4 linked regions of the Homo sapiens genome follow. The protein of the gene in region 1 purifies or fractionates together with the protein of each later gene. This does not show direct contact. Each region holds a gene or a part of one and is shown on either strand. Other genes may lie near its edges. The genes, in order: BCL11A, CHD4, UBXN4 and MAP3K20.

Region 1 (8,006 bases):
ATTCAGGTGTTTGAAGCGCTGACTGCTAGCTAGCTAAAGGCCCAGGGAGCCTGGAGAGAAAGATGCCAGACTAATGGTTCTCCCAGGAGCCTCCTTGAGAGATGTCTGTGCCTTTGTAGAAGGTATAGATACTGTCCTCCAGGGACCTCCCAACCTGTGGGTCACACTGGGAGTAGAGGAGGAAAAAGAAGCTCATCCTCTTCCACAAGCAACTCCCTAACATTTTTATTATTATTTTTTTGAGACAGGCTGTTGCCCGGGCTGGAGTGCAGTGATGTGATCTTGGCTCACTGCAACCTCTGTCCCCCAGGTTCAAGCGATTCTTGTGCCTCAGCCTCCCAAGTAGGTGGGACTACAAGCATGCGCCACCATGCTCAGCAATTTTTTGTATTTTTAGTAGAGATGGGGTTTCACATTGTTGGCCAGGCTGGTCTTGAACTCCTGACCTCAAGTGATCCTCCCACCTCGGCTTCCCAAAGTGCTGGGATTACAGGTGTGAGCCACCACCCCCAGCCATTCCCAACATTTTAAAATTCATTTTTCCTTTGTCTTAACAACAGCCTAGCACTTCCATCATTGAGACCCAAAATACAAAACCTATGCCAAGCATAGAATCCAAACCTAAGTTTTATTTTTATGAAGATGACTGCCTGTTCTCTATTTTGTGACCTGCCAATTAGGAAAAACAAAAAATAAAAATTAAAAGAAAAGAAATAAAAAGAAGAAAAAAGGCTAAAGTAAAAATCAAGAAGGAAATGATTGTATTTTTAATCATTCATTCAGTCATTCACTTATTTATCTTTGAGTCTATGAAGGTGTTTCCCCCTAAAGGCAGACAGTGAATATTTTATTTTAATCTTGTAGTTTCCATCCTGACAGACCTTTTAACCCTTCATCTTCCAGCTCAGCCCGAGTTCCTCGCGCCAGGCGATCCTCGGTCCGAGGGCTGGGACTGTATTAAGTCTCCCTCTTCGAGCTGTTTGTTGACCACATTCACGTTCAGAGCCCTTGAGCTAAAAGCACTTTACACCATAAAATAAAAGCACTGTCTTTTTTTTTTTCTAAAAGGTTACGTCTGGAGGCCACGCGGCTCATACTTCATACCGAAAACTACTGAAAGGACTATGAAATCCTGTATGATTTACACTCTCTCACTGCATTAGGGTATAGATCTACTCAACTCTAAAAATACGGTGGGTTTCTAACCGACGTGAATATATGTGCATTATTTCAGAAAGTCTGTTAGAAAACTTGTCAACACATTATAAAGCATAAACTAGGACTTGGCTATTAAGTACGGAGATCAGAGGCAGAATATATACTGCAGGAAGTCCTGGGGCGTCTCCTCCGCGGGCAAGATAAAAAGGGGGAGGAGGGAAGGGGAGGGGTCGTCTGCTGGCCTGGAGTTTACACGCAGTGTCGTCACCAAAGGTTTGGGAAAGAGCCCACGGAACGTAATTACCCTTTCAATGGGAGCAGCAACAGCTCTACAGCCCCAAACGAAGTTAACTGAACGGCCAGAAAATAATTTTAACGTTGTCATAATTTATTACTTTCTAAAAGCCACTTCTGGAAAGGTAAATATACTTATTGTGTATCCAAGTGTGCGCATTTAAAGTGACCTTTCACCCCCTCTACAAAACCACCTGCATCATTAATCAATACTTACGTAATATTTTAAAATCTCTTAAAACGACACATCTTTCTTTAAACACACATACAAACCCTCCCCTCCCCCACTTTCGGGCTCTTTAGCGAGCATCCAGCAGTGCTGAGGGAGGGGTTGTCGCCCTAGGGGAGGGCACCAGGGGCCGGGGAGGGGGGTCGACGACCAGGAGGGATCAAATGCCGACACACAGCCGTGGTTTTCTGGACTGGGTGAAATCTGGCTGGGGGAGGGGCGGGAGCGGAGGGCACTTCCCATTTCACCCTGGGCATATTATGATGGTGAAATTAAATATATGTCGGGGAATCGTCGCTGCTTACCTCTCCTTTGGCACCCAGGGAAAGCAGCTGCAAAACTGGCTTTTTAATGTATGTTTTAAGATGTGGTTTAGGAAGGAACCCCCTGGAATCTGAAACAAGTGCAATAACATAGCAGACCTACTTGTAACTAAGTGCTTAATTTCCTATGTTTTTTTTTAAAAAGGAAAATCAATAAAATGTTGCCAGTTATTTATTGGAAATAGCCACAGATAGCAGCCCTGATAGGGTGCCATCGTCAGAGCGCACACAATTGTGTAATGAATTGTAATTCAGAAGACTGTTAAATGTGAACCACAGAACCTTTCAGAGGTAATAAAGTCATTACTTTTTACACTACAGCCAACCCCGAAAAGCTTTATACACACCATTATATATAAATCATACATATATATATATTTCCACAACACTCACTCGCTCATTTATATATCTTCTCTATAGATGGACTTTTATGGACGGGTGGGAACAATATTCAAATCTGAAAAGCTTGGTTCTGAAAGAATCTGGCTCACTATTGTTACCTGAAGGGGCTTTTCTTTTATTTATTTATTTTTCAAAGGCCTCCCAGTTGCACTTTCTTCTTCCCTCTCTTCACCTTCCCTCCAACCGTCCCCCACGTCGTCCTCCCCCGCCACCCCCCAAGAAGACATTCTTTTGGTGACTCCAAGGCTGGTTTAACAAGACAAAAAGCAGACTGTGGTGGAATAGAGATGCTGACCTGCTCTGAAGAACTCAGTGAAAAGGGGAAATGGTGTCACACACAAGCTACAGAGCTTAACTTCTAGTGAATCCTCCCGCTTCTTAAACAGAATTTGAGGTCTCCCTCCCACAAACTGGAGGGAAACAACAACAAACAACAAACCACATTGACACAATCCCAGTACAGCCCACATCTCTCTCAATGTTGAGCATCAAAACCTCCTTTTCTTCCTTAGAGGGGTCCGAAGCTCCGCCGAGCTAGGCAAGCCAGTCATTTTCTAACACAGTAGACTTGAAACTTTACTAAGACGAAACAGGAATAAACAGCCGCTTGCCGGCAGGGCTGCGGGATGGGTGAGCGCGTGCAAGCCCGGGGCCCTCGCTTAAAACAATAAAGCCCCCCCACCGGGTGGGTGAGTTTACGGAAGCGACACCCTTTAGACTGAAGAGGGGGATGAGAAGACGGGGGTTGTGGAACCGCTCCGAGGAGAGGGAAGGAGGGCTCCTCGCTCTGCAGACACACTCACACATATCCACCTGCAGCTCAGGGTCTCGCGGGCCATGGCGACCCGTCTCCACCCTGCACCCTCCGCACCTCCCTTGGACCTGAGTCCATTCTCCTCTCCCCCCAACTCCTTCCAGATTTGGAATCGGACTGCGATCTCCCCGGCGGCGGCGGCGGCGGCTGCAGAGTGGTGCTGGCAGGCAGGGAGGCTGGGAGGCGGGAGGCGCCAGGGGACTTTACAGGCACGTTTCTGAATAAACTTTCCAATCGCAGGGGGTGCTGTTGCTGTACATTTTACGTAAAACTGAAAGTATCCCACGCCAGAGTGAAGCCCGCTTTTTGACAGCGGCAGCACGCGCGTGTGTGTGCGTGTGTGCATTAAAGAGACAGGGTTTTATTTCCAACAGGTCTTCCCTAATTTCCAGGGAACGTCTGCAGAAAGGCGAGAGGGGGCTGCTGGCTCCTGGGTGTGCGCCTTGGCCGGCGGCGCCTGGGGAGCGCGGCGGTGACCCGAGGCGGTCATCTCACCACCGTGGTCTCCCCGCTGCTCCTGCGAGCCTGTCGCTCTCTCTCCATTCCCATTTTCTCTTTCCCTGGGTAACAGCACAGGAACAGTTGTGCTCTGCCCGTAAGAAACATTTTCTTCCCATCCCTCTGTGCTTTTGCAGTTGCTCTGGAGTGGGAGGGGGTGTGTCCCTCCCAGGGACCCGGCTCGGGGACCTCCCGCGGCGCCGTGAGCACATTCCCAGGGACTGGGACTCCCGGGACTGCCCGCGCTTTGTCCTCGGCCTCTCAGAGAGGTGGACGCCTCGGTGCCTCTCTTGCCCAGGCCCCCGGCGCTCCCCTCCGGGGGCCAGACTCTGGCTCCTCGTTCTTTATTCCTCGGGCTCTCTTTCTGCGACCCTTAGGAGCCGGGGACTCGGCGCTTTCAGTTGCATTCAGACCCAGTCGCTTGGCGGGGCGCTCAGATTCCCGGTCCCTGGCTCGGCCTTGGGGGCGCCCTCGGGCCCCGGCCTGCGCCGCCTGCCTCTCCCCGGTCCCCTCTTTCCAGGCCGCGCGGGCTCCTGGAGACTTGGGCGCTGCCCTTCCGGACCCGCAGCCCTCCAAACTTAGGCTGGATTCCGCGTTGCCGTGCGCTCCCTCCCACCTCCCCTCGCCCGCTGCGGAGCTGTAACTTGGAGGCTCAGCTCTCAACTTCGGGTGATTTTTCTTTGCTGTCCTCTCCTCGGGCAAAGTTTCCCGAGCGCAGCCGCGGGCTCGGGGCTTTTACTTCGGCCCCTGGCGTCCACACGCGGGGAGCGAGCGCGGCGGCGGCGGGGAGGGGAAGTGGGTGTGCGTACGGAGGAGGGTGTCCGGGAGCAACTCTACCTGGCTTCCCTCCGCCCGCGCTTCCCCAGCCCGGGGCTGCAGCCTCCCGGTGCACTCTCGCTCTATTTTTTTCTTTTTTGAATAATCTTTCATTTTAGAGTCCGCGTGTGTGGGGGGGAGCAGGGCGCACGTCTTGCTCCCCCCCACCCTTTCCTCCCACCCCTGCCACCCCTTTCTTCTCTCCCGGCCACGCCACCGCCGCGGCGCTCGCTGCGGCCACTGGTGAGCCCGCGGCCCCAGCGCCCCCTCCCCTCGGCCCGCCCCTCCCCCGGGGGCCGCGTCTGGCGTCCGCGGAGCCCCCCGCCCCGCACCTCCCCCTCCCCGCACTGGCCATTGGCTTGTCCTGGTCTCTTTTTCATGTCCAGCCCCTGATGTGTGTCCATTGGTGTGAGCTTCCCCTTCCCTCCTCCCCTTCTCTCCTGCTCGCCCTGCCCATGTTTTGTGTGTCTCTGTCCATCCAGACTCCTGACGTTCAAGTTCGCAGGGACGTCACGTCCGCACTTGAACTTGCAGCTCAGGGGGGCTTTTGCCATTTTTTTCATCTCTCTCTCTCTCTCTCCCTCTATCTCTCTTCTCTCTCTCTCCCTCTTTTTTTTTTTTTTTTTTTTTTTTTTTTTGCTTAAAAAAAAGCCATGACGGCTCTCCCACAATTCATCTTCCCTGCGCCATCTTTGTATTATTTCTAATTTATTTTGGATGTCAAAAGGCACTGATGAAGATATTTTCTCTGGAGTCTCCTTCTTTCTAACCCGGCTCTCCCGATGTGAACCGAGCCGTCGTCCGCCCGCCGCCGCCGCCGCCGCCGCCGCCGCCCGCCCCGCAGCCCACCATGTCTCGCCGCAAGCAAGGCAAACCCCAGCACTTAAGCAAACGGGAATTCTCGCGTAAGTAACCCAATAATAGTAATAATAATTATTAATAATCACGAGAGCGCGCAGGACTAGAAGCAAAAGCGAGGGGGAGAGAGGGGTGTGTGCATGCATTTTTAAATTTTTCACGAGAAAAACCTCCGAGAGTCGAGGTAAAAGAGATAAAGGGGGAAAAAACCCTCATCCCATCTGGAACCATTGCCGTGTATGCACTTTTGAGACAGCACGCACCTTTTAATTTTATTTAATTTTACAAAAATTTGACTCCTCCTCTTTCCTCCTTTCCGCCGCTTTATTTCTCTTTTCGAAAAGGAATGCAATGATTCCACTCCCCCCCCGCCCCGCCAGTTTTGCAAAATAATGAACAATGCTAAGGTTGCGAACAACTCACATGCAAACCTGGGGGTGGGAGCTGGTGGGGAAAGGGAGGTTGCTTCCCACTCACCGTAAGAAAATGGGGGGGTAGGGAGGGAGTGAGTACAAGTCTAAAAAACGATTCCCGGGGAGAAAAGAGGTGAGACTGGCTTTTGGACACCAGCGCGCTCACGGTCAAGTGTGCAGCGGGAGGAAAGTAGTCATCCCCACAATAGTGAGAAAGTGGCACTGTGGAAAGGGGCCCCCGGCGCTCCTGAGTCCGCGGAGTCGGGAGAGGGGCCGCGGCGACGGGGAGAGCCGTGGGACCGGGAAGGACGGGAGACGCGGCCGGCACTGCCGCCTTTTGTTCCGGCCAGAGGTGGGTGTTTGTCCCGCTGCCTTTTGTGCCGGCTCCTCGCGCTTGCCCTCCCGCGCCGCCGCCGCCGCCGCCGCCGAAGGGCAGGAGCTAGGGCCGGGGGAGGAGGCGGCCGGGGGCACGCGGGAGAGGGAGGGAGGGAGCCCGGACTGCTGCCTCCTGGGTTGCCGCTGCCCTCCCCTCCCGACCGAACCTCAGAGGCAGCAAGGAGAAGACTGGCACATAAATAAATAAATACATAAAAATAAAATAAATAAAACAAGGCAAGAGAATGTACAATTTCTTGCCCCCAAACCGAAGCCAAACGCTCTGCCAACCCTTTTCTGTGACGGCCTTCTCTTTGACTCCCCCACCAGCCCCCCTGCAAAAATCTCACAATCTCTCATCTAGAAAAAAATTTACAATCACCCTCTTCCCCCAAACCCCTTCAGTTGCAAACTTAGGGCGCCGACGGCACGGAGAGGGAGAGAGGAACTCCCTCCTCTTACTATTTTTTGGAAGATTTTCAAAAAAAGTGGAAGTGGATTTTGATTGGGAAAAATCTCGTGTCTGAATGTTTACAAGCACCGCGTGTGCGGGAGCCTCCTGCCAACAAACAGACAGAGGACCGAGCGCGGCGCGGCAGCCCCGGAGCAGGCGGCGGCGGCGGCCTGGCCTCGCCCGGGCCTTGCCCGACCTCGCCGCGCCCCAGCCCAGCCCCGGATCGCCCACCCGGCGCCCGGCGCCCACCCGCCAGGCACGGCGGCAGGCCACGCAGTGTCTCCGCGCCAGCCTGGCCCGTGGTCCTGGTCCGCCCCCAGCACAATGCCGAGACCTCTTCTCGACCTCCCAGACTGCGAAATCGGCTGGGTGAAACTCGGCTTTGCAAAGCATTTTTATTTTGCAGGGCAACTGTAAAAGCGCGTTCTGCGCCTCCCCTCCCCTCCGCCCTGGGTACTTTCTCAGACGTCTCTTGTCCACAGCTCGGGACCGCGAGGAGGTCACCACGTGCTTTCCCTGCCCACCCCCCACCCCGCCCGGTCTGGTCACCAGTCCCCCTGCGCCCCGAGCACGACTAGGCCAGGTGGCGGGGTTGCCGGGGAAGGGCAGGGGAGAAGTGTGTTTGAGTGTGCATTTTAAGGGCGCTGGATCCTGGGACCCCGAGCACTTCACCCTTTGGGTCTTGCCCTCTTCCCCAGGCCTGGCTTGGTCTGAGGTTCTTGTGAGTCTGTATAAGAGCTGGTGGTGGTGGCTGTCTCCCGCTGACTGCGCCTGGAAAGGCGGGCGGTGGGCACTTAGGAAAGTTTGGCAGCAAGGGAAAGAAAGGCGTGAGGGCCCACATTCCCCCCCTACTCAATTTATGATTCTTACTTTAAATTTTTGATGCAGTTTTAAAGGACCACCTATACTTGGTTCTGTGTTTTTTTAAAGGGGTGGTGGTGGGGGGTGCGCACAGGGAATTTAATTTTTCACTGGGCCCTGGAACTTGTCACACACTTCGGAAGCTCCCCCACCCCGGCACGTTGCGCGGCCCTCCCTCTCCCCACCCCCTCGCATCCCTCCCTCGCCGCTCTCCCCCGCCCCCAACTCCCCCGGCCGCGCCGGATGCGGATCAGACGCGGCGCGCGGCGGTGTGAAGTTACAGCCCGGCCAGGTACCGGCGGGAAGGAAGGGCAGTGTTCGCAGGACTCGGGAAAGTCAGGCCCTTCTTCGGAAGGATGCAGTGGGGGCTCAAAGGACAGACCGGGGCGCGCAGTCCAGGCTGCTCCCTCGTACCCCTCTCCCTCCTGGGTCCATCTTGGGACACTCTAGGCTGGGAGGGTTAGTACCCCCTCCTCCTGTCCCGGGGTTAAAGGGCCAGTTTGGGAGGGGG
Region 2 (7,021 bases), on another chromosome or scaffold:
CCAAACTCCTGGGCTCAAGCAATCTGTCTGCTTCAGCTTCCCAAAGTGTTAGGATTACAGGCGTGAGCTACTGCGCCTGACACTTCATGTTATTATCTTTATTTATTTATTTTATTATTATTGTTTTTTTTTGAGACAGACTTGTCACCCAGGCTGGAGTGCAGTGGCGTGATCTTGGCTCACTGCAAGCTCTGCCTCCTGGGTTCACGCCATTTTCCTGCCTCAGCCTCCCGAGTAGCTGGGACTACAGGCCATCGCCACCATGCCTGGCTAATTTTTTTTTTTTTGTATTTTTAGTAGAGACGGGATTTCACTGTGTTAGCCAGGATGGTCTTGATCGCCTGACCTTGTGATCCGCTCACCTCCTCCTTCCAAAGTGCTGGGATTACAGGCGTGAGCCGCCGCACTCGGCCTATTTATTTATTTATTTATTATATTTTTTGAGACAGAGTCTTGCTCTGTGGCCCAGCCTGGAGTGCAGTGGTATGATCTAAGCTCACTGCAACCTCCGCCTCTCAGGCTCAAGTGATTCTCTGCCTCAGCCTCCAGAGTAGCTGGGATTACAGGCGTGTGCCACCACGCCTGCCTAATTTTTTTTTTTGAAATGGAGTCTCGTTCTGTCGCCCAGGCTGGAGTGCAGTGGCGCAATCTCAGCTTGCTGCAACCTCCGCCGCCCGGGTTCAAGCAATTCTCCTGCTTCAGCTTCCCGAGTAGCTGGGATTACAGGCACCTGCCACCATGCCCGGCTAATTTTTGCATTTTTAGTAGAGACGGGGTTTCTCCATGCTGGCCAGACTGGTCTTGAACTCCCGACCTCAGGTGATCCGCCTGCCTTGGCCTCCCAAAGTGCTGGGATTATAGGCGTGAGCCACCGCGCCCGGCCTGATGCCTGGCTAATTTTTTTTTTTTTTTTTAGTAGAGACGGGTTTCGCCATGTTGGCCTGGCTGGTCTTGAGCTCCTGGCCTCAAGCGATCTGCCTGCCTCAGCTTCCCAAAGTGCTGGGATTACAGGCGTGAGCCACTGCACCCGGCCAACACTCTATGTTAATTATTAACTGACTGAATTCTGGTGTTTGAGCTCTAGGAAAGTATAAATTAGAGATAATTTTTGGTCAGAGACTGGTACAGTAGAGGCTCTGAAAACGTGTGATCTGTGGCATACCTAGAGGTCTGGTGTGAAACAAACGGTATTGCCAGTTTTTGAGAGGAAGTGAGGAGGGTTGCCTTTTCTGGCTCTGAGGGTTTTCTCTCCTGGACTTGCAGTGTGGACAAGAAGGGCCACGTCCACTACTTGATCAAGTGGCGGGACTTACCTTACGATCAGGCTTCTTGGGAGAGTGAGGATGTGGAGATCCAGGATTACGACCTGTTCAAGCAGAGCTATTGGAATCACAGGTGAGTGATTTTGGGTGAGGCATAGAGTTGTTTCTTTTTTTTTTTTTTTGAGATGGAGTCTTGCTCTGTCACCAAGCTGTAGTGCAGTGGCGTGATCTTGACTCACTGCAACCTCCGACTTCCTGGTTCAAACGATTCTCCTGCCTTAGCCTCCTGAGTAGCTGGGATTATTTGCATACGCCACCACACCTAGCTGATTTTTTTTTTTTTTTTTTTTGAGACGAAGTCTTGCTCTTGTCCCCCAGGCTGGAGTGCAATGGTGCGATCTTGGCTCGCTGCAGCCTCCGCCTCCTGGGTTCAAGCAATTCTCCTGCCTCAGTCTCCCGAGTAGCTGAGATTACAGGCGTCTGCCACCATGCCCAGCTAATTTTTGTATTTTTAGTAGAGACGGGGTTTCACCATGTTGACCAGGCTGGTCTCGATCTCCTGACCTCAGGTGATCCGCCCGTCTCAGCCTCCCAAAGTGCTGGCCTCCCAAAATGCTGGGATTACAGGTGTGAGCCACTGTGCCTGGCCAAGTTGTTTCTTCTATAGAAAAGGATTTTGGGCAGCTGTGTGATGTCTTTCTTCTTTAGGGAGTTAATGAGGGGTGAGGAAGGCCGACCAGGCAAGAAGCTCAAGAAGGTGAAGCTTCGGAAGTTGGAGAGGCCTCCAGAAACGCCAACAGTTGATGTGAGTGGGGGTGGAAGGGACTGTAGTTTGTTGGGTAGGACAATGTATCTTTGCTGCAGTCTAATGATGGTACTCTTAAGTAATGAAATGCAGATAGTAACTTTGTAGCTGAGATTACTTCACAAAGTCGGCTTCCCCACTTCTCCACATCTCTATATATCAGAAAGCACTAGGATTACTTTCTTCTTTTGTCATCAGAAAAAAAAAAAGGAGGTATATTTTGAATGATTGAAGAAGTGTTGTCTGGGGGGAGGGGCCACATAGCCTAGCTTTTATGCACTTACATAGGAATCTGGCTTAATTCAGGCTCAGTTCCTCTGGGTTTTGTTTGTACAGTGTAATTTGAGGGTGATTAAAGTTAAAAAGATGAATCTAAGAGGGACATAACGATTATTTACCTGGTGGATCCTGACTAGTAGAATTATTGTATTGGTAGGGAGTCTGTGACGTGCTTTTCCTCAGTGATCTGTAGGATCAAAATCAGGTCTGGTTAAGCCCTGTTTCCTGGAGGACCCTAAACTGAACATGAAATTGCAGTAATCATAGGGGATCTCTTCCCTCCGAATTTTCCGGAGCTCTTCCCCAAGAGGATCCGTGAAGACTAGTGAGGAGGAAGCAGCTGCTCTATTAGGGGAGGAGGGGAGTTCCTTGCCAGCTCTTGACTTCTCTGTTTCATCCTTCAGCCAACAGTGAAGTATGAGCGACAGCCAGAGTACCTGGATGCTACAGGTGGAACCCTGCACCCCTATCAAATGGAGGGCCTGAATTGGTTGCGCTTCTCCTGGGCTCAGGGCACTGACACCATCTTGGCTGATGAGATGGGCCTTGGGAAAACTGTACAGACAGCAGTCTTCCTGTATTCCCTTTACAAGGAGGTAAGGAAATCTGGGGTGGATAGTTTTTTGTGTGGGTGTTTTGTGTTTGAAGCCTTAACTTACACTGAGTAGAGAGATAAGGGAATAAAAAAATTGGTCTCTGACCTTCAAGAACACTGTGGATAATAGATAAACACATGTACACATGTGTTTAGTAGATAGTAGATAAATGTGATAGTGGATAAACACATGTACACAGCGGAAGATTTGAGGGCATGGAGCCCTGGGTAGGATTAGCAGTGGATCCATAGAGTATCAGTTCTAGGGGAATGATTGTGTGTTGAGGGAAGTAGAATTATGAGTAGAATTAGTATGGAAAGGCTTGGCTGGACGCAGTGGCTCATACCTGTAATCCCAGCACTTTGGAAGCCCGAGGTTGGTGGATCACCTGAGGTCAGGAGTTCGAGACCAGCCTGACCAACATGGCGAAACCCCGTCTCTACTAAAAATACAAAATTAGCCGGATGTGGTGGTGCACGCCTGTAATCCCAGCTACTTGGGAGGCTGAGGCAGGAGAATCGCTTGAACCCGGGAGGTGGAGGTTGCAGTGAGCTGAGATTGCGCCATTGCACTCCAGCCTGGGCAACAAGAGTGAAACTCCGTCTCAGAAAAAAAGTATATAAAGACTTAATGGGAGAGGTAAGACTTGTAGTTATGGTGGGACCTTGGGTTTTTGGAAAGGAGTGGGCTGGGCACTTGTATAGAGGAAGGTGAGAGCAGGAGCAGCAGCGCAGGTGTGTCAGTCCTTGGCTCAGCTTGAGGGGGCAGCAGGGTGGTGGGTGTTCGCTGGGGTTGCAGTGTGCTGGGGCCCTCAGTCCTGACTCTCCTCTTTTTTCTCAAAGGGTCATTCCAAAGGCCCCTTCCTAGTGAGCGCCCCTCTTTCTACCATCATCAACTGGGAGCGGGAGTTTGAAATGTGGGCTCCAGACATGTATGTCGTAACCTATGTGGGTGACAAGGACAGCCGTGCCATCATCCGAGAGAATGAGTTCTCCTTTGAAGACAATGCCATTCGTGGTGGCAAGAAGGCCTCCCGCATGAAGGTATCTCAGGGGAGGGAAGCCACCCTAGAGAAAGAGTTGTGGCTTCTGGCTTAGTTTACCTCCTTGTGATCTGGTCCCTGGTGAGGCAAAAGGGTAACCCTGGGAGGAGGAAAACATTCCATCAGTCTCCTGGTTGTGCTTACACAGAGGAACTGACTAGTAGTGACCAAGTTGCCTTCATGTGCAGAAAGAGGCATCTGTGAAATTCCATGTGCTGCTGACATCCTATGAATTGATCACCATTGACATGGCTATTTTGGGCTCTATTGATTGGGCCTGCCTCATCGTGGATGAAGCCCATCGGCTGAAGAACAATCAGTCTAAGGTGAGGGCTGAGGGAGGGATGTTGGAGCCCCCACTTTGGGTTTTTTCTAGTACTACCAATTCATTAAGGGGAAAACTTGTAGATGGAGAGGAGAGGGGAAAATTGTCTCTGCCTTCCTTCCTTGTATGTGACAGCCCTTGGTGGCCAGGCCTTTAAAAAGAATGTGAGGAGTGGGATGCTTAACTATTGGGCAGTGAAAAACTTGAAATTTTGTAGAGATTTGCTAGAGCTCTGTTTTCATTGGATTTCACCTTTCTCCATCTGCTTCACCAGTTCTTCCGGGTATTGAATGGTTACTCACTCCAGCACAAGCTGTTGCTGACTGGGACACCATTACAAAACAATCTGGAAGAGTTGTTTCATCTGCTCAACTTTCTCACCCCCGAGAGGTTCCAGTAAGTATGTGTTTATCTGTAATCGGCTCATAATTGTGCCTCTCATTCTTCCTGTTGCCCATTTCCTGTATCACTTTTCTTTCTTCCTTTCTCCTTCTCCAATAACTTTTTTCCTTTTTCTTTCTGAAGCAATTTGGAAGGTTTTTTGGAGGAGTTTGCTGACATTGCCAAGGAGGACCAGATAAAAAAACTGCATGACATGCTGGGGCCGCACATGTTGCGGCGGCTCAAAGCCGATGTGTTCAAGAACATGCCCTCCAAGACAGAACTAATTGTGCGTGTGGAGCTGAGCCCTATGCAGAAGTGAGTTGGGAGGGACAGAAGCAGACTCCATTTAGACATCTGCCAGTCTGCAGAGTGTTTCCTATTCCTCCCCCACTCAGCTTCAAGGCATCTGGTGACAGGAGCAAGCAAGGCCTGAAGAAACCTGATGCTAGGGCGCTGGAGCGCATAGTTCTTACTTATTTTAGGTTATACCTTTCCTTATTTAAAATGGTGGTGGTGGTAGTGCTTGTGCGTTAGGTGTCCTTAGTTCCAAAGTGGGATGTGTTGGAAGAAAGATCTCAGTTGTTGGCACTGCATTATTAGTCATTGAAAGGCTCTCAAGTCTAACCTGTCTTTCTACCTTGCCCATGTAGGAAATACTACAAGTACATCCTCACTCGAAATTTTGAAGCACTCAATGCCCGAGGTGGTGGCAACCAGGTGTCTCTGCTGAATGTGGTGATGGATCTTAAGAAGTGCTGCAACCATCCATACCTCTTCCCTGTGGCTGCAATGGTATGTAGTGCCATCTCCTGTTCCTCCCTGGGTTGGGTCTTCTCCATGTGGGCTTTCTTTTAATACTTTTTTCTTTGCATTTGTTCTCAGGAAGCTCCTAAGATGCCTAATGGCATGTATGATGGCAGTGCCCTAATCAGAGCATCTGGGAAATTATTGCTGCTGCAGAAAATGCTCAAGAACCTTAAGGAGGGTGGGCATCGTGTACTCATCTTTTCCCAGGTATCATGTGGACTGGGAGCTTTAGGGAACAGTCATAGACAACCCTTAGTGACCTAAGGAAAGGGATTACCATCTGACTCTTCCATAATTAAACCGTGCTTCTTTTGCAGATGACCAAGATGCTAGACCTGCTAGAGGATTTCTTGGAACATGAAGGTTATAAATACGAACGCATCGATGGTGGAATCACTGGGAACATGCGGCAAGAGGCCATTGACCGCTTCAATGGTGAGAGAGAAGGAGTTGTTTAGTTTCAGGAATCCTCATTTGCTTATATCTTTGGACTGTAACTTCTTGTGCATCTCCTTTTCTGTGTAGTTCTTTTGGGACTTTGTCATTTGAGATGGAGTAAAGCTTTTGAATGTCTCAATTGGACGAATGTATTGGACTATTCCTAGGAGATTTTTTCTTTTGGGGTATTTGTTCTTTCTGCTAGAAAGAAGAAAGCATTGTATCTCGAGGGCAAGCAAAGGGTCAGGACTTGTTCAAGCTCAAATAGCAAGTTACTAGCAGACTTGTCTGCCTCAGTAGACGCTACTAGGTTTTTTTTTTTTTTTTTTTTTTTTTTTTTGAGATGGAGTCTTGCTCTGTCGCCCAGGCTGGAGTGCAGCGGCACGATCTTGGCTCACTGCAACCTCCGCCTCCCGGGTTCAAGCAGTTCTCCTGCCTCAGCCTCCCAAGTAGCTGGGACAACAGGCGTGTGCCACCACGCCCAGCTAATTTTTGTATTTTTAGTAGAGATGTGGTTTCACCATGTTGGCCAAGATGGTCTCGATCTCCTGACCTCATGATCCGCCCACCTCGGCCTCCCAAAGTGCTGGGATTACAGGCACGAGCCACCACGCCCAGCCTGTTTTGTTTTGTTTATTCGAGATAGGGTCTCACTCTGTTGCCGAGGCTGGAGAGCAGTGGCACAATCATGGCTTACTACAGCCTGGACACACCCCCAGGCTCAAGTGATCCTGCTGCTTCAGCCTCCCAACTAGCTGGGGCTGTAGGCTTGATCCACTGTACCTAGCTAACTAAAAAAATTTTTTTGTAGAGATGGGGTCTTGCCATGTTGCCCAGGCTGATCACAAAGTTCTGGGCTCAAGCAATCCTCCTGCCTTGGCCTCCCAAAGTATTGAGATTATAGGCATAAGCCACTGTGCTCAGTATCACTACTCCTTGTTTAAAAAAAAAAAACTTTTTATTTTAATTTTAGACTTAGAAAAAAGTTGCAAAACAGCAGAGAGAGTTCATGTATACTGTTCAACTAGCTAGCTTCTCTTAATAATAACTTACGTAACTGCAGTACAATGATCAAAACTAGAA
Region 3 (7,070 bases), about 75 Mb from region 1:
CTGGTCTAGAACTCTTGGCCTCAAGCAATCCTTTCATCTCAGCCTCCCAACATGTTGGGATTATAGGCATGAGCCACTGCGCCCAATCTGTGCTTTCTTCTATGTGTCTTTTATTAAGAAAGCTTTTCCTGGAAGTAGCCCCTCCCACCCCCCTACCCTTCCTACAAGGTTTTACTGGCTTCAAGGGGAGGTTGAAAAGCCCAGTATCTGGCAGGTTGCTTTGTTGTTGTTGTTGTTTGAGACAGGGCCTCACTCTGTAGCCCAGGCTGGAGTGCAGTGACGCAATCTCTGCTCACTGCAACCTCCGCCTCCCGGGTTCAAGCGATTCTCATGCCTCAGCCTCCCAAGTAGCTGGGATTACAGGTGCATGCCACCATGGCTGGCTAATTTTTGTATTTTTAGTAGAGATGGGGTTTCACCATGTTGGCCAGGCTGGTCTCAAACTCCTGACCTCAAGTGATCTGTCTGCCTCAGTCTCCCAATGTGCTGGGATTACAGGAGTGAGCTACTGCACCCAGCAGTTTTGCCTCTCAGTAGAAAGTGAATTCTGTCAGGAAGGAATAATAGAAGGCATGGTAGAAGAATGACTGCTGGATCGGCCATCAACAGAATGTGCTGTATACCCCATTTTCCCTCCCATCTCCAGAGGGGCCTTCCATTTTCCCATTTGTTCAATCTAAGACCAGTTCCTTTCCACTAGCATTTAATTTTATGCAAATCTCTCCCATCTTTAAAAAGGCTGTCTTTTCAAATCCAAATTCCTGTCCAGCTAATGTTCCTTTCTTCCTTCTCACCTTCACACTCACTGACTCTTTACCTCCCCTTACTTTTCAACCTTTTGCCATCTGGCTTCTGTACACAAGAACCATGAGAATTGCTCTTGCTAAGCTTAAAATGACCTCTGTGTTACTAAAAACAATGGACATTTTTTAGTCTCTCATCTTAATTGACCCAACAGCAGCATTCCACACCACTGCTTCTCCTTTCTTAAAATTCTCTCTACCCTTGGCTTCTTTGATATCACACACTCTCCCATTTTCTTCCACCACCCCACACTCTGCCTTTCCTGCTGAGTCTCTTTTACTGGTTTATACTTTTTAATACAACCCTATAAACGTTGGAGGCCCTAAGACCTCAATCATGCTCGTGTCTCACCTCACTTTGCACCATCTCCCTAAGTGATGGTATCGTTATCTTCCAGTGCCTCATTGATCCCCTGTATGTAGATAAATCTCACTTTCCTATCTCTAGTTAAGAACTGTTATCTGAGCTCCAAGACTAATAGCTATCTGCCTACTTAACACTGCATGTGAATATCTCTCTAGTACTCCAAACACATGTTTAATATTGAACTCACACCTTCATGAACAACCTCCCCACCATCCTTCACTTCTTTCAGTGTTGCCTATCTCAGTACCATCTTCTTTACGATTTTGCAAGGCAGATACCCCAAATCTCTCTCTCTCTCTTTTTTTTTAGAGACAGGGTCTTGCTCTGTCGCCCAAGCTGGAGTGCAGTGGTGCAGTCATGGCTCGGTGCAGTCATGGCTCACTGCAGCCTCAAACTCCTGGGTTCAAGTGATCCTCCTGCCTTGGCCTCCCAAAGTGCTTGGATTACAGGCATGAGCTAACACACCTGGCCACAAAATCCCTTCTTGAGTCCTTCTTCCTCAACCTCCACATGTAATCAACAAAATATATTGGGTCTGTCTCCAGAATATCAAAAGCATCCACTTCACTATCTCCCTTATGTTAATACATGAATAAGTACCTCTTACCTGGTCTATTCACATTCAGCCATTCCACTTCAAATCCAATCTATTCAATTGCTATCATACAATTTAAAAATGGAAGTCTTATATGTATCTGTTTATTTATTTATTTTTTGAGATATAGTCTTGCTCTTTCGCCCAGGCTGGTGGGCAGTGGTGCCATCTTGGCTCACTACAACCTCCACCTCCTAGGTTCAAGCGATTCTCCTGCCTCAGCCTCCTGAGTAGCTGGGATTACAGGCATGTGCAATCACGCCCAGCTAATTTTTGTATTTTTAGTAGAGATGGGGTTTCACCACGTTGGTCAGGCTGGTCTTGAACTGCTGACCTCATGATCTGCCCGCCTCGGCCTCCCAAAGTGCTGGGATTACAGGCATGAGCCATTGTGCCTGGCCAACTCTTCTGTTTAAAATTTTTCAATGGCTCCCTGTAATCCTTAGAAAAATGTCTTAAAATTTTTAACATGATTTTCAAGACTCTGTATCATCTGATCCTTGCCTAGCTTTCCAGCCTCACTTGTACCACACTCCTCTTTCTATGTTATAGCCACACTGGGCATTTTTTAGTTCTGCAAGTGCACTGTGTTTGCTTGCTTCAGAGCCTCATGTGGAATAGCCTTCTCCTTCACCTACCTAGAGTTCCCCGACACGTCATTTCCTCATGAAGGCCCTTTCTGACTCCACTAGCCCATGTTCGGTCCCATCCTCATACACTTCTGTAGCACTCTGAATTACCCTTCTGTGACATTTATCATCACTCATAATTACTTATTCAATGTCTGTCTTCCTGACTAGACTGTACAGTCACAAAGACAGGGCCTTCTTCTGACTGCCTCACCTCCTTATCAGTGCCAGGCACAATGCCTAGCTCATAAAAGATGAGTGATAAACACTTGACAAATGAATATAAAACTATGAAGGATTCTTATTTAATTCTAAAATTAGAGATAATTAAAGACATAGCTCTATTGGAATAATTTCTAGATTGATCAAATTTCCAGAAGTCCATTAAAGTTGATGTTAAAGGTCAATTCTAATTTTTCTGTAGGATTGTTGTCCTATAGAAGCAACTGTCCCTAATCAGCATTATGTCTCAGTTTATAATAACACTATATACGAGAGGCCTGATTGGGAAAAAAAGTACAAAAATCGGAGTGCAAATAATTAGCTATTTTTAGGGAAAATATCTGTAGGAAAGGTGGTATATTCAGATGTATCACTTCCTTTATCTTGCAAAGATTGTCAGATAGATGTACTGCTGGAGGATAAATTTAATTGATGTAGAATTTAACATAATAGTATATGCAACTTTAAATAAACCATGCAAGCCTTTAGCTAATAGTTATTACAGACCATGTGATTTCATGAAAGTATTAAATATGGATCAGTTTTCATTTAATGGCAGCCAATCACAAAGCGCCACATCTTGATTATAGGACATTCTCCCAGAAAATTGGAAAATAAATCACTATCTAGTCTCTTTTGTATTACCATGGAAAGTAGCTGGAAAAGAAATAATCTATTCTCTGCTTTGTGTTACTTTAAAAAGTAGCTGTGGCAATAGCCTAACGCGTTTTGAAGTTTTGAAATGATCTCTATCCAGTGTCTAGGAAATTGCTGAAGGCCTGCGTTCTACCAATTCCTCCGCTTAGGCACATGGACTACAGGTTATTAAAGAAGGTGACTTGCGGTTTTTATCCCGTTTTTCTGCAAGGTTGGGCTACGTTCAGAAGAAATCAAAGCCTCGGAGTTAATCCCGACAAAGCCCATTTAGTTCCATGCGAGGACTATTTCCTCCACACTGAGAGTCTCAACGAGGCCGAGAATAGCATATGCCAGTTGGAGTGACACTTATTTCTCCCTCTCCCCTTTATAGAATGTGTAGTGGCCCTCACTACTGCCCCCTTTAGCTGTGCCTCAGAACCCACAGTTACATGCTCCACAATATGGAGGCGAATAAGCCTAAGTGGACTACAATTCCCATCATGCCTCACTGCAGGCGCCGCCGACGTGTCTTAGCGGTTAGTCATCCCTCTTACCGCTTTCCTCCACTTCCTGGACTGCGCGACCGGAGGCCTAGCGGGCGCGCGCCCGCACCATCGACTCGCCAACGAGAGAAGGTCCTGGGGCACGGACACCGACGGGTTGCGACTGTGACGTGAGGTGTTCTCGCGCGCGCTAGCGCGCGTCTCCGGGTGCCGCTGACGGGCGTGCGCGCTTGTGCGGAGCCGGAGGTGGGGGCCGAACCAGCCAAGGTTGCGGGGGCCGCAGAGCCGGACGAAGACGGAGGGCGGAGCCGGCTTCGGGACTGCGGAGACTACACACCGAGCGAGCGCCTGGGCCCGAAGGGAGCGATGCTGTGGTTCCAGGGCGCCATTCCGGCCGCCATCGCGACGGCCAAAAGGAGCGGCGCGGTCTTCGTGGTGTTCGTGGCAGGTGAAGGAGGCAGGGGTTCGAGAGGCGGCCGGGACACCCCTCCGGCCTACCTTCATCCTCTTGTATACCTCAGCCGCCGGCCCGCCCTCCCCGAGACGCGGGCTCCTGTCGGCTCGCACAATTGCCACTACTACCCCGCGCCCCAGGGACGGCTGCGACTCCGCCGCCAGATCCCCCAGAGGGGCCATGCAGACCCTCAGCGCCCTGCTCCTTCAGGCCCCGGGCGCCCCCAGCCTTTCCTCAGTGTCTGCGAGGCCCGGGCTGCCGGCCCGTGGCTGTTCAGCGCCTCCCCGGTTCGTTTGAGATACAGTGGGCCTGGCCCCACCGCTGCGTCTCCCGGCAGCCGGGCCGGAGGCACCGTCTGGCCCTGGTCTCCAAAGCGCCCCGAGGCCCGCCGAAATCTCCCCGCTCGGGGCGACGGACGCGGCCAGCAGGCCCCAGCCGCCCAGCCCCGCTCGTCGCCCCGAGCCTCTCCCCTGCGCAGCCAGACCCCCGCGACCCTCTCCCTGACGTCCCTCTCTGTCACCAAGGACCCTCTTTGTGCTGCTTGAACGCCCGTTTCGTTACTGCTGTTTAGATGGAGGTAGGAACGGGCCATTAGGCAAGCAGTTGGGTTGTAATTAGTTGTGGACTGTCGGGAAGAAAGCTGTGTCATCGATAAGCAACAAAGAGAAACCACCTGATGTTCACGGTTACTGGTGTTAGTACGTTCCTGAAACGTAAACTTTTGAGCTGAATAGAGGTTTAATTTTTCTTTATGGCAGTCTTGGTAGGGGATCTAGTGTGAAATAATGTAAGTTTAAAAAAAATCCATTAGTTTCAAAGAAAATAGACGTTCAGTCCTTGGTTTCTTCCCTTTGTTGTCTTCTTAGGCTAAAATCTACACGACTTTGAGAACGTTTATTAACTCATATATTCTCTGTTGCTCTAGGCTATTTTGCTCCATATTCTCCTGTTTTATTACTGAAATCTTGTAGATTTACAGTGAACTCCCTGCCTCTACGGTTCTGCTCATACTCATTACATGGACCAAATCAATGTTTGTGGCTGTTGTTAATTTGAGGTGTATTTCTTCAACTATTTGTGTTTAATAACGGTTTATTCATAATTAACTCGTCTTTTAATAGCTCTATAACTTTATGCACTGCAGTGAAGAACGAATTACTGAAATGTGAATGTCATTTAGCATTAAATTTGGAATTTATAATTGTTTTGTTACGCCAAGTTTTTAGCTCAATGCTGTTTATTAGAAGAGCTTGAATAGTTTAGATTCTGTGATGCTGTCTGGGGGTTATATTATACTTTACATAAATTAATTCTGTAATCCCGTAAGGAAAAAAATGGATTGAAAATGAAAGGAAAAGTAAATGACACTATGCTTATTGTGTACATTAGTAGGTTTTTGACATTTTAAATTGTTTTTCTCCTAATATCTCAGTTGATCCTTGCAGTAAATAGAACAGGTTTAATTATCCCCATTTTATAGATGAGGCACTTAGGTCAGCAGTCATAAAGTGACTTGCACTAGGGCCACAAAAAGGATTTACATGTCTTAACAGTCAAATTTTTTAGTAGCTTCAAAAAAACTGGCTTTTTTGTTTCTTAAGGAAAAAACTGAACAATTTGTAAATTGGTGATTTAAATTGGTATAGAAATCAGAAATTTGGATTATGGTAGTCATGTTTTTGAACAAATGTCCAAACATTCCTAGAAGGCACTCTTGAGGTAAATCAGTTAATTTAAAAAAAGAAACGAGAGATTTTTATTAACAAATATTAATATTTGGAAACTCTAGTACAAATTATTGGAATAGTTAAATAAAGTTATAGGTCTTGCCTTTCGGGGTTTTGTGTATATATATATACTTTCTTCAATTAAGTTTTTACTGATGAGCATGTATTACATGTATTTAGAATATAATGACTCTTGAATGTTTGCAGGAAGACTGTTAGCAATCTCACAAAGGAGTCTCTGTCTGTCCCTTGACCTGTTCCAAAATCCAGCTAGCTTTTTTAGAGCTTTAGCCAGTTAATCCCCAAGACTAAGTAGGATTAGTGTCACTCTAGGAGTATGTAGATACTGGACTCATGAAACCAAAACACTTACAGATTGCTTAGAGCTTTCTTCATAACTCTGAAGTCAGAACTTGTGATTTTCTTAGGTCTAAGATCTCAGTAATAATATACCAACTTAATGGAAAATTTGAAAGATGTCTTTATAGTTGGAAGACGTGATCTCAAGAGTACACTTTGGTTCATAGAACTGTTCAAGTGGGAAACGTTTTAGGCAAGTGGTCTTTAGTTAGTGACATTTTCATGGATGAATTAAAGAATATTGTAGAGTTGATGTTAGGAGACGAGAGATTACTACTACTTCAGCTAACAAATTAATATGATTTTCAAAGTATTGTGGCTGTGTAAAGTAAGTGAAACAAAACGATATTCATTTAATACTTGGGAAGGTAGAATAATCTGACGAGACTGAAGTAAAGGTATCTGTTCACTGGCTAATGTTGCTAGGTAGGTAGGCCAAACTTTGTTAATGATAGACGCCATTTTCTGCCTTTTTTGGTGAATGTAGACCACAGAAGCCTTTAGGTTTTGAGCAGTTGAGATTTATTTTACATCGGAAAGACTGGCTGTATGAGGGTCTGCAACTCTTTGCTTCTGAGTTCGTGTTGCTCTCTTTAAGTGCCTTCGCTTAGGATACTGCCGATACAAAGGATATGCTGTTTTCTCCTAAAATCTTAGGCCCACCTAACTTTATAGTTGATAATTTGATTAAAAATAAGAAATGAAAGATACCAGAGTTAGCAATCAGTCATCCCACTCAGTAGTATTAGGAAAGTTGTCATTAAGCATTGA
Region 4 (7,021 bases), about 110 Mb from region 1:
CAGTAGAAGACAGCTCAAACAAATTAGATGATTGTCATAATTTATCCTTTTTTCTTTTTTTAGTTGTTATAGCTGCTGATGGAGTATTGAAGGTAGGACTATTTCTTTTACTTAAAAAAATTGTTAATTTCAGATGTAGATTTTTGTAACTGATAATCCCTTAATTAGCCAATAAGTAGAAAGTTGACACTGATTCCTGTTTTCTCAGATCTGTGACTTTGGTGCCTCTCGGTTCCATAACCATACAACACACATGTCCTTGGTTGGAACTTTCCCATGGATGGCTCCAGAAGTTATCCAGAGTCTCCCTGTGTCAGAAACTTGTGACACATATTCCTATGGTGTGGTGAGTTCATTTCTCATTTCTTGTTTACTAAGGGAAATACAAAAAGCAAACACTCAAAAGAAGAGAGATACAGTTTAACATGGTTTTATTTTTATTTGAGACTGTACTGCTGGTGGAATGCCTAAAGCAGCACCATTGGAGAACGCTTCCTAGTTGCCAAAATGTTTAATCATTTTTAATCATCGGAGTTATTTTGTCCTGTGTTGAGAAGAAACCAACACCACTTCCAAGAAACAAATTAAATGGAATCCGAGATAGTGTTGGGCTCCGCTTTGCCTGTGAGAATGATTTTTTGCAGGGTGGTAATGTGACTGTGGACTCTCTCTGTAATTTCAATGGAAATGTGGATCATTTGGAACAGGACTTCATTGTAATGGATTGCTTAAACAGTATAAAATCACCAATAGATCTGCCAAGCGAGTTAATTACCAGGAAACTTTTGAGTCTCAACTATTAAACTGATTCATCGGTTTCTAAAAGTCCAAAAGAAAATGTACTTAGCACTTACCAGATGACCTTGTCCATGTCTGCTGCCAGTCTTAGAGTAGCAGTGACTATCTGAAGCGTGACTCTAAGGCATTACATAAGAATCACAGCAGAGCCACATAGAGAATAGACTAATGAGGGGGTGGAGTGCTCAAGGAAGAGACCACAGGAATGAATCCGTTAAGGAGCAGAAGCTCCTGGAGGAGGAATTTGGAGATGGGCCATTTCCTGAGGAATAGGTTATACCTGCATTATCAGAGAGAAGGAAGTGGAGTGGGAGAGTTCTTTGCTGGAGGAAGGAATTCATTTGTTGCCTTTTGTTGAGGATAAACTTTTCCCTAAAATGTTACGTATTCTTTAAAAAGTCCAAAATAGTTTTGGAATTCCCTGTCTTTACATCTCATACTGCCCTGCTATTTATACTATTATACTGCCCTGCTGTTTATACTATTACTTCCTAAAAGGGCATTTTCATAGTAATGGGTAAAGAAGCAGCCTGTTTTAGGTCCAAATCAGCCTGTCTCTTCGTCCTGAACTTCTGTGTTTTCTTACTGCAGGTGGTAGCCAATGACACAAGAGGAGATTCACGTTGTCAGACCTGTTTTGTTTTGTTTTGTTTTCTTTATTCGGTCTCTAGGTATTTAATGCTGGCTTCACAGGTTTTGGACTTGTTTCAGTGACTAGCTTTTTGTAAATCATAACACATCCTATGTATACCAAATTAATAAAGATTAATTTTGTTAGCTATTGAAAAAATCATTTCAAGAATGAAATATGTTTTTGACCGAAGGCTAGAATTTTAAAGGTCAGAAGGCAAGAGTAACATCAGGCTTAATACCTGATATCCAAAAAAAGAAAAAAAATCAATACCTGATATCCCTTGATTCTGGTTTCTTAAGAATGAAGACTATAAGCTATTACAGTGATCAAATATTTCTCATAAGTTTCAGAGGAGACTAGCTTATAAAACTGGTCTCCTATGTCAAATGTTACTACATTCTAACCATCATACATTCATCTGTGGGATATTCTGAAAATGGGGTATTTGTAGCAATTTAAGACTCTTTGTAAGATTGTTTTCTCTTGTGAAAGTGCATTCCTTCATTTATAACCAAACGTTTATTTACTGAGGCACACACCACCTGAGAGTAATTTAAATTTTTCTTAGCCTGCTTGTTGGGAACGGCCTCTCGTTTTGTCCTGTTGAAATAGGAACAAGCAAACTTTTTCTAGAAAGGACCAGATAATATATATTTTTGGCTTTGAGGGCCACTTACAGTCTCTGTTGCATAGTCTTCATAGATGCCATAGTTGGCTTTTTGTTTCTTACAACCCATCAAACATGAAAAAGCCACTCTGTATTCTGCAGCAGGCCATCGTTGCGGGCACCTCCCTGGAACAAGAGGGCTTGGGAAGATGAGCAGCGTGGTTTAGGAACGTGGCTTGACCGTTCAGAGTGGCTCACCAGGAGCCCACTGCTCCCACTCCTTTAATGTGCATGTGTATATAAATGTATATAAACATGTTTGTTGGTGTTAGGTATATATGTATGTTGGTTATAGTTATTGTAGACTGTTACAGCTTTTAAATTGTTTGTCACATTTATATGAACTAGAAGACTTTTGAGGTTCATTTTTGCACTTATGAGTCCACACACATACAGTGCTTTTACTTTTAAAATTCTCCCCAAGTGTTTGAATTTCCTTATCTCAAAAATTTTTGACCTTAAGACACAACTATACATACATTGAACTTTTAGCCTCAACATTATTTCATATATGAAAACAAACTTTATGCTGCCTTCTTTCAAAGCCTTACAGTTGCCAGGGCTTTGGTGTGAAATGCCCCCCTCTGCTTTTCCTGAGATGAAGTACAATCTTAGTACCAGTAGCCAAGCACAAATTCCTTTTCACACATAAACTATAAAAGATGTTAAGAGTGACTTCTGTTTGGAGAGCTTAGGATTTTTTTCCTGTATCATTTTAAAATCTCTTCATACATTCCACATTGACCCCATTTCTTAAACATAGTTTGAGTCAACCTTTCTGGAGCTGCACATTTTCAGTGTTTTTTATTAAAAATCTTTTCACTTAAGAAACTATGCACCACATTTCAGTAGAAGGGCTTGAACACGTCTCTTTGTGGATTAGCTTTTCTCTCTACTTGTGTGCTGACCCTACCTTTGCTTAGTTTGGTTTGGTTTTGGAGGGATTTAACAAATGCTTAACAAACCATCCTATGGAGTAATTTCACTTACTGAAACAAACTCGACCACCAGCCACTGAGCATTTCCAGTGTTGCTCTGTATTTACACACTGGATGTTGCTCTGCAGAACCTGTCCACCCCATCATGTGATGTGGAATATCAATTCTGCATTCATGCTAGAGCCTTCCCTTACCTGGTGGAAACAGAAATGCCATTTCAGTGAGTGAGTCTATTTTAAAACAGCTTCTGCTGTGTGAGTCTTGAAGACAGAGGTTTGCTTGGAATGCTGGTTTGCCTCACAGAATGTTGTGTCAGCAGAATTCCATTCAGAAAAGTGTACAGATGCTAATTTAATTATAAACAAGAACTCAGGACTGTATAGGTTGATGCAAAAGTAATTGAAGTTTTGCCATTTAAAAGTAATGGCAAAAACTGCAATTACTTTTGCACCAACCTAATATTTAATTCTGACCTCTTCTCATTCTGTTTGTTCTAAATAAACACCATTAATGAGAGAAAAAATACGAGGTATGCTTTCCAGCGACTTTTTATTTAAACAACCACAGGTATTTTTTTAATGAAGAAAGCATTATGTGTTCAAAGTAGATGTTATAGAAAAGAGCAGGTGAGGATAGTTGTTAAGGTTGGGACCATGTTAGTTTTAGAAGTTTGTGGTCCATAAACTTGGAAAATGATACCTATTTTAATTCAAAATGTGGTTATTTTGAATTTTTTATGTCTTTTCAAAAATAGGTGAGTAGCCAAGACTCCTTTGTCAGTAGGAGCATTTATTTGCATTAAATATCCCATTGTTCATTGGGAGTCTGTTCTGTTCATTGAAACCCCCTCTACACACAGCAGTCACATACAGATGAATAAGACCATTAAAAAAAAGGTTTTTTTTTTAAAATCCACCCAAAAAACTGCAATATATTTTTGCTTTTTGTTTTTCTAATTTTTTAGACTGCTGTAAGAATTTAGCCCCTACTACTCCCAAAACCACCAGCCCTCCCCAGGTTGATAAACCTTTGTTGCTTCTTAACAAATGGCAAGACTCACTAACCTTGTACTGCCTTAAAATAAATGTGCTGTGAATGCCAGAAGTGGATTTTATGATCCTTGCTCTTAAGCTGGTAAACTTTGCTAGGGAGGCAATTGTTTCCCTCCATTTTATGAGAAATGAGATTTTTCTACCCTCTTATGAGAACTCTTGGAGGACTGAACCTGGAAGAGTGTTTAGTATGTTATCCACAAAAAAAGAAAAGCAAAAATCACTGAAAGAATAAGCCTTCTGAGAACACAAGGCCTAGCCTCTCTTTAAAAAAAAAAAAAAAAAAAAAGCTATTCTAATGACAATGCAGAAAGGATTACCTTCTTAGAAGCTTCTCAGCCAAAACCAGCCTTGAAAACATAGTGGCTTAAGAGACAGCATGGCTGCCTGGCTTGTCTGTGAGCACTGTTCCAGAACAAGCTGGGCTCAGGTAATGGCTTTCTATTGTTTGGAAAAGAAAGGGCAGAAAAAGTACGTAGTCTTTTCCAAGTTTCTATTCTGTAAACTGAAAACATAAATTTTCCTTGTGAGCACAGTTTAAATGTGAGGACGTCTCAATATAAAATGAGTCGGAAAATATTTTTAAGGTGAAAGATCACAATAATATTTGGCCTGAATCCTCATAACTGGTATTTTTAGGCATCATTTAATATATTTTTAGACCTCCAAGTGACTTCCTCAGTAAAGTTACTTTTGTATGCCAAATGTTATTTTTGTTTAGTGTGGAAAAAAAAAGCTGATGTCCTATCTTATACCACCTGCTTTTTGATACATCCCCAAATCCAGGGAATTAATAAAAGGAAATCATGAGATGTGCTGATACTGGAATTAAACTAAAGACCTCATTTGGGCTTCAGGACATAGCAGCTAATGACCCCACCTCAGACACTTTTACATCCATCAAGTAACTCCCTCAGCTGTAGTAGCTCTTCAGAGACACAGAGGGAGTCAAATGGAATTGGCTTATTTTTTTCTTTATTTTTCACGGTTAGAGCTCTCAGAGAAATATAACTTAAATTTTATTAGATTTTGGACATTTTCCAGCAGAATATTTTGGAATCAAGAATGACGTAAATGTTTTTCTGGTGTTGTCCCCCCAAACTCTTGGATTTGCAATTTACTTCACAAAATTCAGTCTGTGCATGTGTGCACACATGTACACGGCGTGTTTATCATACCTGCAGGCCAAACTCAGAAGAGGCACTGCTCATCTGTGCGTTTGGGGGTCTGGAGCGTTTGATTTATTGGAGGCTAACTCCCTGTTCCCATTCTCCTTAGGAATGCCACATCCATTAATTTACTTGCCCTTCGTATCTTTTCCCCTCCCCAGCCCTAGCCCCCTGTGGAGTGGTAATTGCAGCCAAATGAGGGGCTCCATTTCCTGCTCAGCCCTCTTGCTGCCCAGCCTCCCTCCCTGTGTAGGTCAGGGTGATTGCATACCTGTTCTGTCACCCTTCCTTTACGTGTGGTGTTCACTAGAATTGTCCCCTTGTGGGATGCCCCTTACCTTTTCCTAATCACTTGTGTGACTCAAATAGAATTATTCAGTAGCTCCTCTAAAGGAGTACCTTACACACTTGATTAAAAGCCCAAAGAGGCTTCAGTGAATTTTTTTTCTCCTGCTTGAGCAGCATCTGCCAATTTCCCTGATTTTCCTGCTAATTATCTTCGTATTAGCCAGAATTCATTTACTGTGTTATGGTTGAAATGAGACTGAGCACTGGCTGAGGAAATAGTGGATATGGAGTGAAAGGTTTCTATGATTTGCTTGACTAGAGAGTATGTGTGCTCCATCTACGTTCCTATTAGAAATGAGCTTTTGTTTTTAAAACAAGGGAAATCTGAGTCGAAGCCACTGGTTCTCTTCCTGCTTCTCCCAGGGCGCCATACCTAAGACAGGGCCTGTCGCATTCTCTCAAGTACTGTCACTTTCCCTTCACTCACATTAAAAGGAGTCAAGAGCCTGACCTTTGGGGTGAGCCAGCAGGTTCATAGTCTGGCTCTGTCACTGGATAACTGACTGTCTTTGGGCAAGTTTTTTTTTTTTAACTTTTTAAATAGTTACCTCACCTATAAAATAAGGGTAAGATGTATCCAGTAGGATTGCTATTAATCATGGTAATATATGAAAAGGGCATCTGGAATATAATAAGTACTCAATAAGCGGTGGTGGTTTTTATTATTAGGACTATTACTGATAAAACTAGAATTGTTTTTGCACTTTACAGAGTATTGGTAGACTCACATTTTTGAACTCCATTTGTATAAACAGGGAAAAGTAACATAGTATACAAATCTCCATTACTCAGTGTTTCAAGAGAACCCAAAATCAGCAGTATTCCTAGCATCAATTTGCTTTCTTTGGGCATTCCACTCAGATTTAATAATCATACTGATCTCAAGAACTGCACAAAGATGAACACACACATAAGCTCACTTTCACATAGTCAGCTTATATGTATAGAAAGTGTTTATTACATCTTAGAGTATGGTATAATAGATTATATTGTAGGTAGATGAAAATAGATCCCTTAGACCGACTCATTTTGCGGGAGATTTCTCCAAAATCTAAAATGTAACTTGTAAAATCTAAATATTACAATTTTGCAAGTATCTACCATTGTGGGGTAGGTAGGTTAGCCAGTGATTTGGATTTGGGGCTCAGTTATTTTTGATGAGACCATTATTGAACCTTTTAAAATATTGTTGAATTCCCAGTTATTATTTCCTAGACAAATGTATCAGAAATTGAAGGTAGAACGAGTTTTAACTAACAAAATATACAATCTAATTTGTGAGAACATAAAAATTCTGATAATTTATGAGATGACATTAAATCAGTCAGGCCCATTGGTTTCATAAAATTTTAAGTCTGGCTCTAGATGTCCTAATTTCTAAACCAGGTTTTTTCTTTATAAAAAAGAACGTAAAA

The links.
Region 2: the proteins of BCL11A (region 1) and CHD4 purify together in Homo sapiens (affinity purification with mass spectrometry; 5 studies listed by BioGRID, with this or other methods). This does not show direct contact.
Region 3: the proteins of BCL11A (region 1) and UBXN4 purify together in Homo sapiens (affinity purification with mass spectrometry; 4 studies listed by BioGRID and IntAct, with this or other methods). This does not show direct contact.
Region 4: the proteins of BCL11A (region 1) and MAP3K20 purify together in Homo sapiens (affinity purification with mass spectrometry; 2 studies listed by BioGRID and IntAct, with this or other methods). This does not show direct contact.

The regions. Positions count from the first base shown.
Region 1 is NC_000002.12:60,550,649-60,558,654, reverse strand, and holds the start of BCL11A (BCL11 transcription factor A), read left to right. Parts: upstream 1-5,000; 5' UTR 5,001-5,384; coding exon 5,385-5,439; intron 5,440-5,940; exon of another isoform or gene 5,941-6,157; intron 6,158-7,747; exon of another isoform or gene 7,748-7,787; intron 7,788-8,006. UniProt on the Homo sapiens protein: Transcription factor. Associated with the BAF SWI/SNF chromatin remodeling complex. Binds to the 5'-TGACCA-3' sequence motif in regulatory regions of target genes, including a distal promoter of the HBG1 hemoglobin subunit gamma-1 gene.
Region 2 is NC_000012.12:6,590,380-6,597,400, reverse strand, and holds part of CHD4 (chromodomain-helicase-DNA-binding protein 4), read left to right. Parts: intron 1-1,263; coding exon 1,264-1,395; intron 1,396-1,970; coding exon 1,971-2,067; intron 2,068-2,750; coding exon 2,751-2,942; intron 2,943-3,784; coding exon 3,785-3,985; intron 3,986-4,172; coding exon 4,173-4,310; intron 4,311-4,583; coding exon 4,584-4,705; intron 4,706-4,834; coding exon 4,835-5,008; intron 5,009-5,343; coding exon 5,344-5,485; intron 5,486-5,575; coding exon 5,576-5,707; intron 5,708-5,817; coding exon 5,818-5,935; intron 5,936-7,021. UniProt on the Homo sapiens protein: ATP-dependent chromatin-remodeling factor that binds and distorts nucleosomal DNA. Acts as a component of the histone deacetylase NuRD complex which participates in the remodeling of chromatin.
Region 3 is NC_000002.12:135,737,806-135,744,875, forward strand, and holds the start of UBXN4 (UBX domain-containing protein 4), read left to right. Parts: upstream 1-4,049; 5' UTR 4,050-4,124; coding exon 4,125-4,206; exon of another isoform or gene 4,207-4,839; intron 4,840-7,070. UniProt on the Homo sapiens protein: Involved in endoplasmic reticulum-associated protein degradation (ERAD). Acts as a platform to recruit both UBQLN1 and VCP to the ER during ERAD.
Region 4 is NC_000002.12:173,190,832-173,197,852, forward strand, and holds part of MAP3K20 (mitogen-activated protein kinase kinase kinase 20), read left to right. Parts: intron 1-63; coding exon 64-92; intron 93-208; coding exon 209-346; intron 347-6,880; exon of another isoform or gene 6,881-7,021. UniProt on the Homo sapiens protein: Stress-activated component of a protein kinase signal transduction cascade that promotes programmed cell death in response to various stress, such as ribosomal stress, osmotic shock and ionizing radiation.